Homo sapiens: one gene and its partners. The protein of the gene in region 2 interacts with the protein of the main gene of each other region in a pairwise test. Each region holds a gene or a part of one and is shown on either strand. Other genes may lie near its edges.

Region 1 (3,656 bases), on a different chromosome or scaffold from region 2:
GCCCAGGCTGGTCTCGAACTCCTAACCTCAACTGATCCACCCACCTTGGCCTCCCAAAGTGCTGGGATTACAGGTGTGAGTCACTGCGCCTGGCCTCTTCAGTACCTTTTTTTATGTATAAAAATACATACATGAAAACAAGGCCCACCTGAACACCACTTTTTTTTTTTGGAGATGGAATTTCACTCTTGTTGCCCAGGCTGGAGTGCAATGGTGCGATCTCGGCTCACCGCAACCTCCGCCTCCTGGGTTCAAATGATTTTCCTGCCTCAGCCTCCCGAGTAGCTGGGATTACAGGCATGTGCCACCACGCCTGGCTAATTTTGTATTCTTAGTAGAGTCAGAGTTTCTCCATGTTGGTCAGGCTGGTTTCGAACTCCCAACCTCAGGTGATCCGCCTGCCTCGGCCTCCCAAAGTGCTGGGATTACAGGCGTGAGCCACCGTGCCTGGCCTCTGTTTAACCTTTTAAAGTGGTTATCAGGCTGGGCACTGGGGCTCACGCCTGTAATCCCAGCACTTTGGGAGGCTGAGGCGAGAGGATCGCTTGAGGCCAGGAGTTCAAGACCAGCCAGGGCAACATAGTGAGAATCTATCTCTACAACCACCACCACCACCACCACAAGAAATTAGCTGGGTGTGGTGATAGGCACCTGCAATCCCAGCTACTTAGGAGGCTGAGGTGAGAGGATCGCTTGAGCCCAGGAGTTTGAGGCTGCAGTGGGCTATGATCATATTACTGCACTCCAGCCTGGGCAACAGAACAGGCCCAGCCTATAAAAAAAAAAAATGAGGTATCATACTACATTTTGTTTTCTGTCTTGTTTTCTTTTTCTCTCACCAATATCCATGTCATCAATACAAAACTAACTTAATCTTAATGTCTTTTTCTTATTATAGTAAACATTCTTATATATATCTGAATACTTATGAAATAGGTTACATAGCACAGATTTTTAGAAGTATTTTGAATTTATGGATTCTACCAAGGTCTTCCAAAATGCTGCCTTCCACCAAACCTTTAAAATTTTACATAGAATGCTCCTCCTCACTTCCCAACATTGTTCCCAGTGCTGGATATTACCAACCTGAGAGGCGAAATTAAAATATATTTCACTGTTGTGTCTTTGCATTTTACTGACTGCCATGGAAATATTTACACCTTTTCCTAAGTTCATTCACCATTTGTATTTATTATGTGAATCACCTGTTCATATTCCCTTTGCCCATTTTCTATTGTTTGTTACTTATTGATTTGGAGGAGTCCTTTGTATATTATAAACATTTACTTTTTGTTATATATGCTACAATTATTCTTTTTATCTTTCAATGTTATTTTTCTATATAGAAGTTTAAAAATTTTTAATGTACTCACATCTGCTAATTTTTTCCTTCTGAATTTTGTCTATTAAGAAAGCCTTTCCTACCTCAAAACTATAAAAATGATTTCATATTTTATAAAACATATAGATCTTCAGCCATCTAAAATTTATGTGGCATATAACAGTATGGTGTGAAAAGATATCCTGTAACAAAAATTTCAAAATAACACTTTAAAGGGATAGCCTCCAATAATCTGGAAAGTTCACATATGCACTTCAGTTTTTGAAACCATGTAATTAATGAAATGTTATATTTAGAAGTATGGAGCTAAGCATTTTGCCCCTTTTAATATCATTTAAAAAGTGGGCCTAAGGATGTACTTTGCATTATTAATGTCAATAAACATTCTAAGTAAGAACCCGAGCACCATGACGTGAAAAGAGAACATGGGACAGGGTCATGCTGAAGCTGCTCAGCAGCACTTGTCTCTCACCAGGACAGTCTCAACCCAGAGGTTTCCTGACTTAGAGAAACAAATAAAAAAATAAAAAGAAAAAATAAAAACTCTTCCTCAAAGGAACAGTAACTTTGAAACCTGATAAATGAAACTTATATCTACCCAGCCAACCACTTAGCTTTCCCTTTCTTTTCTTAGGCAACACCCTGACAGACTTGTTAAAACCATCAATTTTATCTTCTTTCATTCTTTAGAGAAGAATAACATTTTTTAGATTTAAAAATAAAGGATGAGTGAATCTAATTCCTGTAACATTGACTTCTGTCTGAGTTACTCAGCTAGGACTGGGCATTCAAAGGCCTAAGAGTTCATACATGAACACTCCAGTAATTATGGTAGCAGGGTTACTATGGGAAATAGCACTTCCCACTTGAAACTGTACTGATTCATCAAGGCATATTTATCCAGTGCTATCAGGAGCTCCCTAAGTATCAGAAAACATTGCATTTATATTATAATATCTACTACAGCTAAACTCTGTAAGCTAGTTGAGGTATTTAGATATTTTTGTTTTGTTTTGTTTTAAACAGAGTCTCATTCTGTTGCCCTGGCTGGAATGCAGTGGTGTCATCTCAGCTCATTACAATCTCCACCTCCTGGGTTCAAGCGATTCTCATGTCTCAGCCTCCTGAGTGGCTGGGATTACAGGCTCCTGCCACTATGCCCAGCTAATTTTTGTATTTTTAGTAGAGACGGTTTTCACCATGTTGGCCAGGCTGGTCTCGAACTCCTGACCTCAACTGATCTGCCTGCCTTGGCCTCCCAAAGTGTTGAGATTTGTAAGCCACGACACCTGGCCTTAGTTACAGTTCTTTTTGAAATTTGTTAACTTAAGGCTTTATCCTTCCAATATGGAAAAAAAAAAAAAAAAGCAGTGAGTTATCAAGAATTAGGTAAAGGCAGGCTGAGCTGACAAATGCCTTACTGCCTTTTCCTTTTTCTGCATCAGGCAGAAATGCCCCTCAAAAAGACCCAGTATTAAAGGAAAGCTTGAATCTGTTTACCACCAAGAAGAAATAAAGCAGTGGTTCACAAAATGTGGTCCGTGGACCACCAGGGGATCCACGAGGTCAAAACTATTTTTGTAATAACAATAAGATATCATTTGCCTTTTTTACTGTCATTATTTTACAAGCGTTAAGTAGAGTTTTTAGGGGTGACATGATGTGAGATATTGCAATGTGAGTGCAAAAGCGGAGAATCCAGCTGTCTTCTTTTTGCAAAGGGATTTGCAAAAAAAGTAAAACAATACAACTCCTCACTAATTTTTTTCTCTTAGATAATAGAACTGTTTTTTTCTAAATATTATTTAACATATTGGTTTACTATGTTTAATTCATTAATATTTTAAAAAATAGTTTTAATTTCTAATAAGGAATTAAAACTTATATAAACAAAAGCTCTTTGTGGGGGGGGGGGTCTTCGATAATTTTTAAATGTGTAAAAGAGTTCAAAGACTGAGAAGTCTGAGAACTGATGGACAAATGCAAAGTCTTTCTGAATATTTTGTATTAGGACCCAAAATTTCTAGGTGTGCCACTGCTCAACCCTCATGAAGCCATCTTAATGTGTTTTCTTGTCTGGAGTCTGCACATAGAATCCAAACTCATGAAATACACACTGTGTGCCCAAAAAAGTGCTCAGAAATCTGTCTATGAATGTTAGTCTGTTCTTTTGGATAGCATGAAGCTTTTACTTACTTGGGGAAAGAGTGGTCTCTCATCTCTTTTCTTTTTGAGGCACTCTGCCATTAATCTCTTCATGGCTTTTGGACAGTTACTCCGTACCTTACTGAGATCTGGAGACAGGTATCCTCGT
Region 2 (3,656 bases):
GAGAAAATACATCCTTACCCAAAACTTACCCGCTTCTCCTTGAGTGCTGGGCTGTCATCCCCAAGGGCAAGACGAGAAGCACAGCTCCGGAACTCAGCCAGGCCCAGGATTGGCAGATACTCGTGATTTAGGCTATTGTCATTAGCAATCTTCTGCTCCACTTTCTTCACTACTGGCAAAACCCAGGGATGGCAGTCATCCGTGCGATATGCTGGAGAATGGAAAAGAGTTATACATAGTGGAGGCTCATGCTGTGTCCAAGTTAAGAGTTTGTAACTGTGAACCAGGAGAATCCCACCACCTTCCGGTCAAAACAGAACAGTGAAGGAAATTGGAGAAAAGTTTGTTCACTTACTGAGTACCTAATTTGAGCCAAGCATTGGGCTAGGTGCTGGGCAAACATAAGGGCAGATGTGGTCCCCATCCTTGTGGAACTTACAGCTCTTAACTATGTGACCTCCAAAAAGTAGAATGCTGAAATAAAACTGGGACATCACAGAGCCTGGTCACATGAGAAAGTACATAGAAAAGCACTCTGCAAAGTAAAAAGCATCTTGCAAATGTCATGTCAATATCACTAGTGCACTGAGGTCTCTAGGCCATTGGCCCAGCAGTCTTCTTCCTTCTGCATCTCCCCAAGAGACTTCCAGAAAAAGCCTAGGTGCTACTTCCACATGAACCTGGCACCTTTAACACAAACATGGAGAAGGAGTGGAAGAAGGCCCACCACTCCTCTTGTCCCAGAGGAACAGAAATAAGACGAATGATAAGCAAATGCCCTGACGATTTCAATGACAGGTGACACAATCACCCAAGGACCCACTTAAACACATCTCTATCCTCTCTCTGTATTTTGACCTCAGCCAGTGTTTACCCTTCTGACTTCATCCCACTTCATCTGCCTCACCCTTTCATTGATCTAAATTGATCTATTTCACAATATTTGATCCTGCTCTACAGTAAACCTCTAAGCATTTCCTCTTCCTCTGAAAGTATTTTTAAGTCACTCTGAGTTATCCAGCACCAATTTTTTTCCCTACACTATTCTATGATTATGTTAGGATTAGAGCTTTACAGGGCAGTTACCTTAGCTTTGCACCCACGCCAATAATCTGTCCAAGTAGGATTCCTGGCAGGGGTCATTTGCCTCTCTGTTTGAATGTTTAGGTCCTCAATAATCCTACACTTACGCAAGTGATTTTGAAATGGAAACAAAATTTTAGAGTGATACTGATTTTTATTTTCTTGATTTCTGCCCAAAATTAATCCCTGACTTAAAAAAAAAATTACATTTTAGGGTTGTTGTTACCATTTACTGAACAACACGTGTTGATTGTAGAAAATTGGGAAAAGCCCAGAAGGTAAAAAATAAACATTATAATTAACATGTGATTGTGTTTTGAAATGTGAGAAGGCGATGAGATTTGATAGGGGTCAGGAGTAGACTGATATAGTTTGGCTGTGTGTCCCCACCCAAATCTCATGTTGAATTGTAATCTCCAGTGTTGATGGACCATGGGGGCAGATTTCTGCCTTGCTGTTCTTGTGACAGTGAGTGAGTTCTCACTACATCTGGTTTTTTAAAAGTGTATAGCACCTCCCGCTTTGCTCTCTCTCCTGCTGGGCCATGTGAAGGTGCTTGCTTGCGCTTCACTCTTCCTCCATGATTGTAAGTTTCCTGAGGCCTCCCAACCATGTTTCTTATATGGCCGGTGGAACTATGAGTCCATTAAACCTCTTTTCTTTATAAATTACCCAGTCTCAGGTAGTTCTTTATAGCAGTGTGAGAACTAACATAACATATAATCCCAGTACTCAGAGACAAGGAGTATGAAAATTTTGGTGTACAACCTTCTAAGCTTTATTTTTGATGGGCATATTCTTTTATAAAATATGGATCAAACTGTACATAGAATTTCAACATGCTTTTTTCCATTTAAATATATACTATGCATTTTTCCTCCTCATTAACTATTCTTCTAATAGGTGACATGTTTGCATGTCTCCATCCCATTCTTATCCTCTATCTACCTAGTTCTCAAATCCCTCCCTCCATAAATAACAACTGTTAGTTTCTTACATATCCTTCCTGCATTTCCCTATGCCTACACAAGCAAACACAGCTTCTTACATATGCCCTTTTAAACAAAAGGTAGCATACGGCATACTATACACTGTTTTGTGTTCCTTGCTTTTTCCACTTGAAAATCATTTTACATTTGCGCATAGAGAGCGTCCTTGTTCTTTTTTACAGCTGCTTAGCTGATGAATGTACCATATTTTACTTTGCCAGTCTCTTGTTGGACATTTGAGTTGTTTACAATCTTTGGCTATTAAAACAATACTTCAGTGAACGACCCTGTACATACGTCATCTCACATGTATGCAAATATATCTGTAAGATGCTGGGTGGAAAACAAAAGAGTGGGCTAAGAAGTATGTGTTTTTGTAATTTTGACAAATATTTCCAAATTGTCCCAATTGATACAGGAATTATATCAATTTACATTCCCACCAGCACTGTTTAAGAGCGTTTGCTTCCACACAGCCTTACGCACTGAGTGTATTTTTGCCAATATAATATGTCAAGTAGTTTTAATTTGCATTTATCTTATTATGAATGCAATTGGGTATTTTTCATAAATATGAGCCATTTACAACATCAGTTTAGTGGATAAATAATATTTGTTTTATATATAATTTATTAACTGTGTTGCTTTAAATTATTTGCTATTATAAACATTGTGATAAATGTTCATATATTTACACATATTCATGAGTGTTTTCTTAGGAAAAATATCTAAATGTTAATTTATTAGGTCACAGGATATACAGTAAAAAGACTTTATAAGATCATTTTGAATGATCAGCTAACTCTACCCTCCAGGAATATGTCATCTGCAAATCTGAGAAACATTTCAAGTTAGTAATAGAAATGTGGACAGGGCTACAGACTGACAGAGCCACTGACCAAATGCCTCTGGGTAGGTGAATCAAACAATACTCTCATACCACTCATAGTCTACCCTCCGGCTCTGGTGAATCTAACTCACAATATTTTTTTCTTTTTTTGAGACAGGGTCTCACTCTGTTGCCCAGGTGAGAGTGCAGTGGCACGAACACAGCTCACTGCAGCTTCAACCCCCTGGGCTCAAGCAATTCTCTTGCCTCAGCTTCCCATGTAGCTGAGACCAAAGTCATTCACCACCAGGACCAGCTAATTTTTTTTTTTTAAATTTTTCATAGAAACAGGGCCTCACTTTGTTGCCCAGGCTGGTCTCAAACTCCTGGGCTCAAGCAAACCTCCCGCCTCGGACTTCCAAAGTGCTGGGATTACAGGAGTGAGCCACCATGCCTGGCCCAACTCACAATACTCTCATACCATTCATGATATACCCCTTAGTCCACCAAACTTCTCAACAAGTTCAAAAAGCCTCCTTCGCCAGCTGGGATTTGGTCTGGCTTCTCTAAAGATGTACCAAAATAGCTACTTCCAAGTAAGAGTTGTCCCTAAAGCACATCAACATATCTATGATCACAACGTTACCATTGTTCAAAATATTCTTGAAACTTCTTTTGGAATTGTTTCTAGAGGCAACATCTCATTATTTTGAATAGCCTCAATAGTGCCAAATCTTTGTCCTTTGAAAGTCAAT
Region 3 (3,656 bases), on a different chromosome or scaffold from region 2:
TCACTTGAACCTGGGAGGTAGAGATCGCAGTGAGCCAAGATCGCACCACTGCACTCCAGCCTGGGCAATACAGTGACACTCTGTCTCAGAAAAAAAAAAAAAAAGTGTCAAACCTACATCCAAAATGTCAAAGTGCTCAAAAAAGTTGGGAAGGCTTCACCAAAGATGTGACATTTAGGGTAGATAACACCTGTTTGTGGATACTAATGTCCTGGTGAGTCAAAGAAGAAAAGGATGTACATTATATAAGCTGGATGCAAAAAGGAACAATAATGAGGACATGCAACCAAAAACTTACATAGGGAGAACAACTTTACTTACTCAGGGAAGGCAAAGAGACCACTTAAGAACTCCTTCACATGTGTTATGTCTTAAAAGCTGACTACTGGAGTTGTATCCCTTGCACAGCATCCCTTTGCACCAAAGTGAACACTACTCTAAGAACATGTGTTCAGCTCTCCTGAATGCCAAGCACAACCATGCTTGGCATGGCAGTGGTGTCTTATTTCTGCTCCTCTTTTTCCCCAGGGCATGCCATTGCAAGAGAATGCTCAGCCATGTTCATCTGGGGACCTGCTCCTGGTAGAGCAATAGGATCTGTGTGCCCAGCACCACTGCCCACCTAGCTGTCCTGGCCTGTGCCCAATGCTGACCTTCACCTCAGAGTGTGGCTGTACCACATTCGGTGATGTCACTCTCACTGAACCTTCAGCCTCCTTCCTGGGACTTCCTGATGGACTGTTATCCAGGGCAGAATGTGTTGATTTTCTAAATCACATAAATGAATAGCTTGACTGTTGATTATGTAGAAAATCAGAGCAAATATTTGCATGGCTTTGTGCAGCCCATTCTTGAGCATCTGATTCTCCCCAGAATTCTAAAAAACCTGCTGCTTTCTCAAGCCCTCAGTAAAGACATGCTTTCTTGATAATCCTAGCCAAACCTATTCATTTGACATCTTTGTTACACAAATGGTTAACCACAGAGTTAACTTCAGAAATGGCTGGCAGGTATGAAGGTTAGAAGATTCATGCACTTTTGCTAGACTGAATTGGAAGTTAAAGAGTAAGTAGTTACTGACTGCAGAGGCCTGGAAAACCATGGAAAAAATCCTATTCCTCAAAGTCGAGCCCTACCTCCTACGCCTCTTAAATCAATTGCCACAGTGACCAATTTGTCAGTCACCTAAAGGCAGCTATCCTGACCACTTAAGGGAGAATACTTATAATCTTTATACCTAAGTAAAGATTGTGAGAGGAAAGAAATGGTTTAAAGAATATGAATGTGTCACACTTCTGAGGTTAATGATAAATGAATTGGTCCTGCTTACCTCAGGAAAAACTTTCAAGTCTTTCTGAAAAACTAATTTAATTCAGTAGTATTTTCTAAGATTTAGGTTATGTTTTTAATCAATTTGGAAACCAAGATTTACTTATAGAAAAAAAGGAAAAGGACCTAGATAGGTTTATTCACATAGAATCCCAATTTCACTTCTCTGGATGATACCATTTTCTACAAAAGCAATTATGTTCTAAAATTTAAGTGTGCTTTCTTAGGCTTTATCAGTTCACAGTGTTTCCTTAAGAAATATGATCCAGTATTTTTTCCTAAGACTAAAGTTGAGTTACTACGTTTATGACTGAGAAATGAATGTTTGTTAGTTTGTTTGTTTACAATAAGAATTTTTTCTTTACCATTTTATTTTTATTTTCCCCAGGTGTATTTGATATAGTGTTTGCAACAAATTCGACCCAGGTGATCAAAATGATTCTCAACTCTTCTACTGAAGATGGTATTAAAAGAATCCAAGATGATTGTCCCAAAGCTGGAAGGCATAATTACATATTTGTCATGATTCCTACTTTATACAGTATCATCTTTGTGGTGGGAATATTTGGAAACAGCTTGGTGGTGATAGTCATTTACTTTTATATGAAGCTGAAGACTGTGGCCAGTGTTTTTCTTTTGAATTTAGCACTGGCTGACTTATGCTTTTTACTGACTTTGCCACTATGGGCTGTCTACACAGCTATGGAATACCGCTGGCCCTTTGGCAATTACCTATGTAAGATTGCTTCAGCCAGCGTCAGTTTCAACCTGTACGCTAGTGTGTTTCTACTCACGTGTCTCAGCATTGATCGATACCTGGCTATTGTTCACCCAATGAAGTCCCGCCTTCGACGCACAATGCTTGTAGCCAAAGTCACCTGCATCATCATTTGGCTGCTGGCAGGCTTGGCCAGTTTGCCAGCTATAATCCATCGAAATGTATTTTTCATTGAGAACACCAATATTACAGTTTGTGCTTTCCATTATGAGTCCCAAAATTCAACCCTCCCGATAGGGCTGGGCCTGACCAAAAATATACTGGGTTTCCTGTTTCCTTTTCTGATCATTCTTACAAGTTATACTCTTATTTGGAAGGCCCTAAAGAAGGCTTATGAAATTCAGAAGAACAAACCAAGAAATGATGATATTTTTAAGATAATTATGGCAATTGTGCTTTTCTTTTTCTTTTCCTGGATTCCCCACCAAATATTCACTTTTCTGGATGTATTGATTCAACTAGGCATCATACGTGACTGTAGAATTGCAGATATTGTGGACACGGCCATGCCTATCACCATTTGTATAGCTTATTTTAACAATTGCCTGAATCCTCTTTTTTATGGCTTTCTGGGGAAAAAATTTAAAAGATATTTTCTCCAGCTTCTAAAATATATTCCCCCAAAAGCCAAATCCCACTCAAACCTTTCAACAAAAATGAGCACGCTTTCCTACCGCCCCTCAGATAATGTAAGCTCATCCACCAAGAAGCCTGCACCATGTTTTGAGGTTGAGTGACATGTTCGAAACCTGTCCATAAAGTAATTTTGTGAAAGAAGGAGCAAGAGAACATTCCTCTGCAGCACTTCACTACCAAATGAGCATTAGCTACTTTTCAGAATTGAAGGAGAAAATGCATTATGTGGACTGAACCGACTTTTCTAAAGCTCTGAACAAAAGCTTTTCTTTCCTTTTGCAACAAGACAAAGCAAAGCCACATTTTGCATTAGACAGATGACGGCTGCTCGAAGAACAATGTCAGAAACTCGATGAATGTGTTGATTTGAGAAATTTTACTGACAGAAATGCAATCTCCCTAGCCTGCTTTTGTCCTGTTATTTTTTATTTCCACATAAAGGTATTTAGAATATATTAAATCGTTAGAGGAGCAACAGGAGATGAGAGTTCCAGATTGTTCTGTCCAGTTTCCAAAGGGCAGTAAAGTTTTCGTGCCGGTTTTCAGCTATTAGCAACTGTGCTACACTTGCACCTGGTACTGCACATTTTGTACAAAGATATGCTAAGCAGTAGTCGTCAAGTTGCAGATCTTTTTGTGAAATTCAACCTGTGTCTTATAGGTTTCCACTGCCAAAACAATGCCCGTAAGATGGCTTATTTGTATAATGGTGTTACTAAAGTCACATATAAAAGTTAAACTACTTGTAAAGGTGCTGCACTGGTCCCAAGTAGTAGTGTCTTCCTAGTATATTAGTTTGATTTAATATCTGAGAAGTGTATATAGTTTGTGGTAAAAAGATTATATATCATAAAGTATGCCTTCCTGTTTAAAAAAAGTATATATTCTACACATATATGTATATGTATATCTA

Evidence for each region.
Region 1: the proteins of GOT1 (region 2) and BRAF interact in a protein complementation assay, tested with the Homo sapiens proteins (one large-scale study listed by IntAct).
Region 3: the proteins of GOT1 (region 2) and AGTR1 interact in a two-hybrid assay, tested with the Homo sapiens proteins (one large-scale study listed by BioGRID and IntAct).

The regions. Positions count from the first base shown.
Region 1 is NC_000007.14:140,736,274-140,739,929, forward strand, and holds part of BRAF (serine/threonine-protein kinase B-raf), read right to left. Parts: coding exon 3,539-3,656; intron 1-3,538. UniProt on the Homo sapiens protein: Protein kinase involved in the transduction of mitogenic signals from the cell membrane to the nucleus. Phosphorylates MAP2K1, and thereby activates the MAP kinase signal transduction pathway. Phosphorylates PFKFB2.
Region 2 is NC_000010.11:99,420,595-99,424,250, forward strand, and holds part of GOT1 (aspartate aminotransferase, cytoplasmic), read right to left. Parts: intron 212-3,656; coding exon 30-211; intron 1-29. UniProt on the Homo sapiens protein: Biosynthesis of L-glutamate from L-aspartate or L-cysteine. Important regulator of levels of glutamate, the major excitatory neurotransmitter of the vertebrate central nervous system. Acts as a scavenger of glutamate in brain neuroprotection.
Region 3 is NC_000003.12:148,739,272-148,742,927, forward strand, and holds part of AGTR1 (type-1 angiotensin II receptor), read left to right. Parts: intron 1-528; exon of another isoform or gene 529-685; intron 686-1,717; 5' UTR 1,718-1,764; coding exon 1,765-2,844; 3' UTR 2,845-3,656. UniProt on the Homo sapiens protein: Receptor for angiotensin II, a vasoconstricting peptide, which acts as a key regulator of blood pressure and sodium retention by the kidney.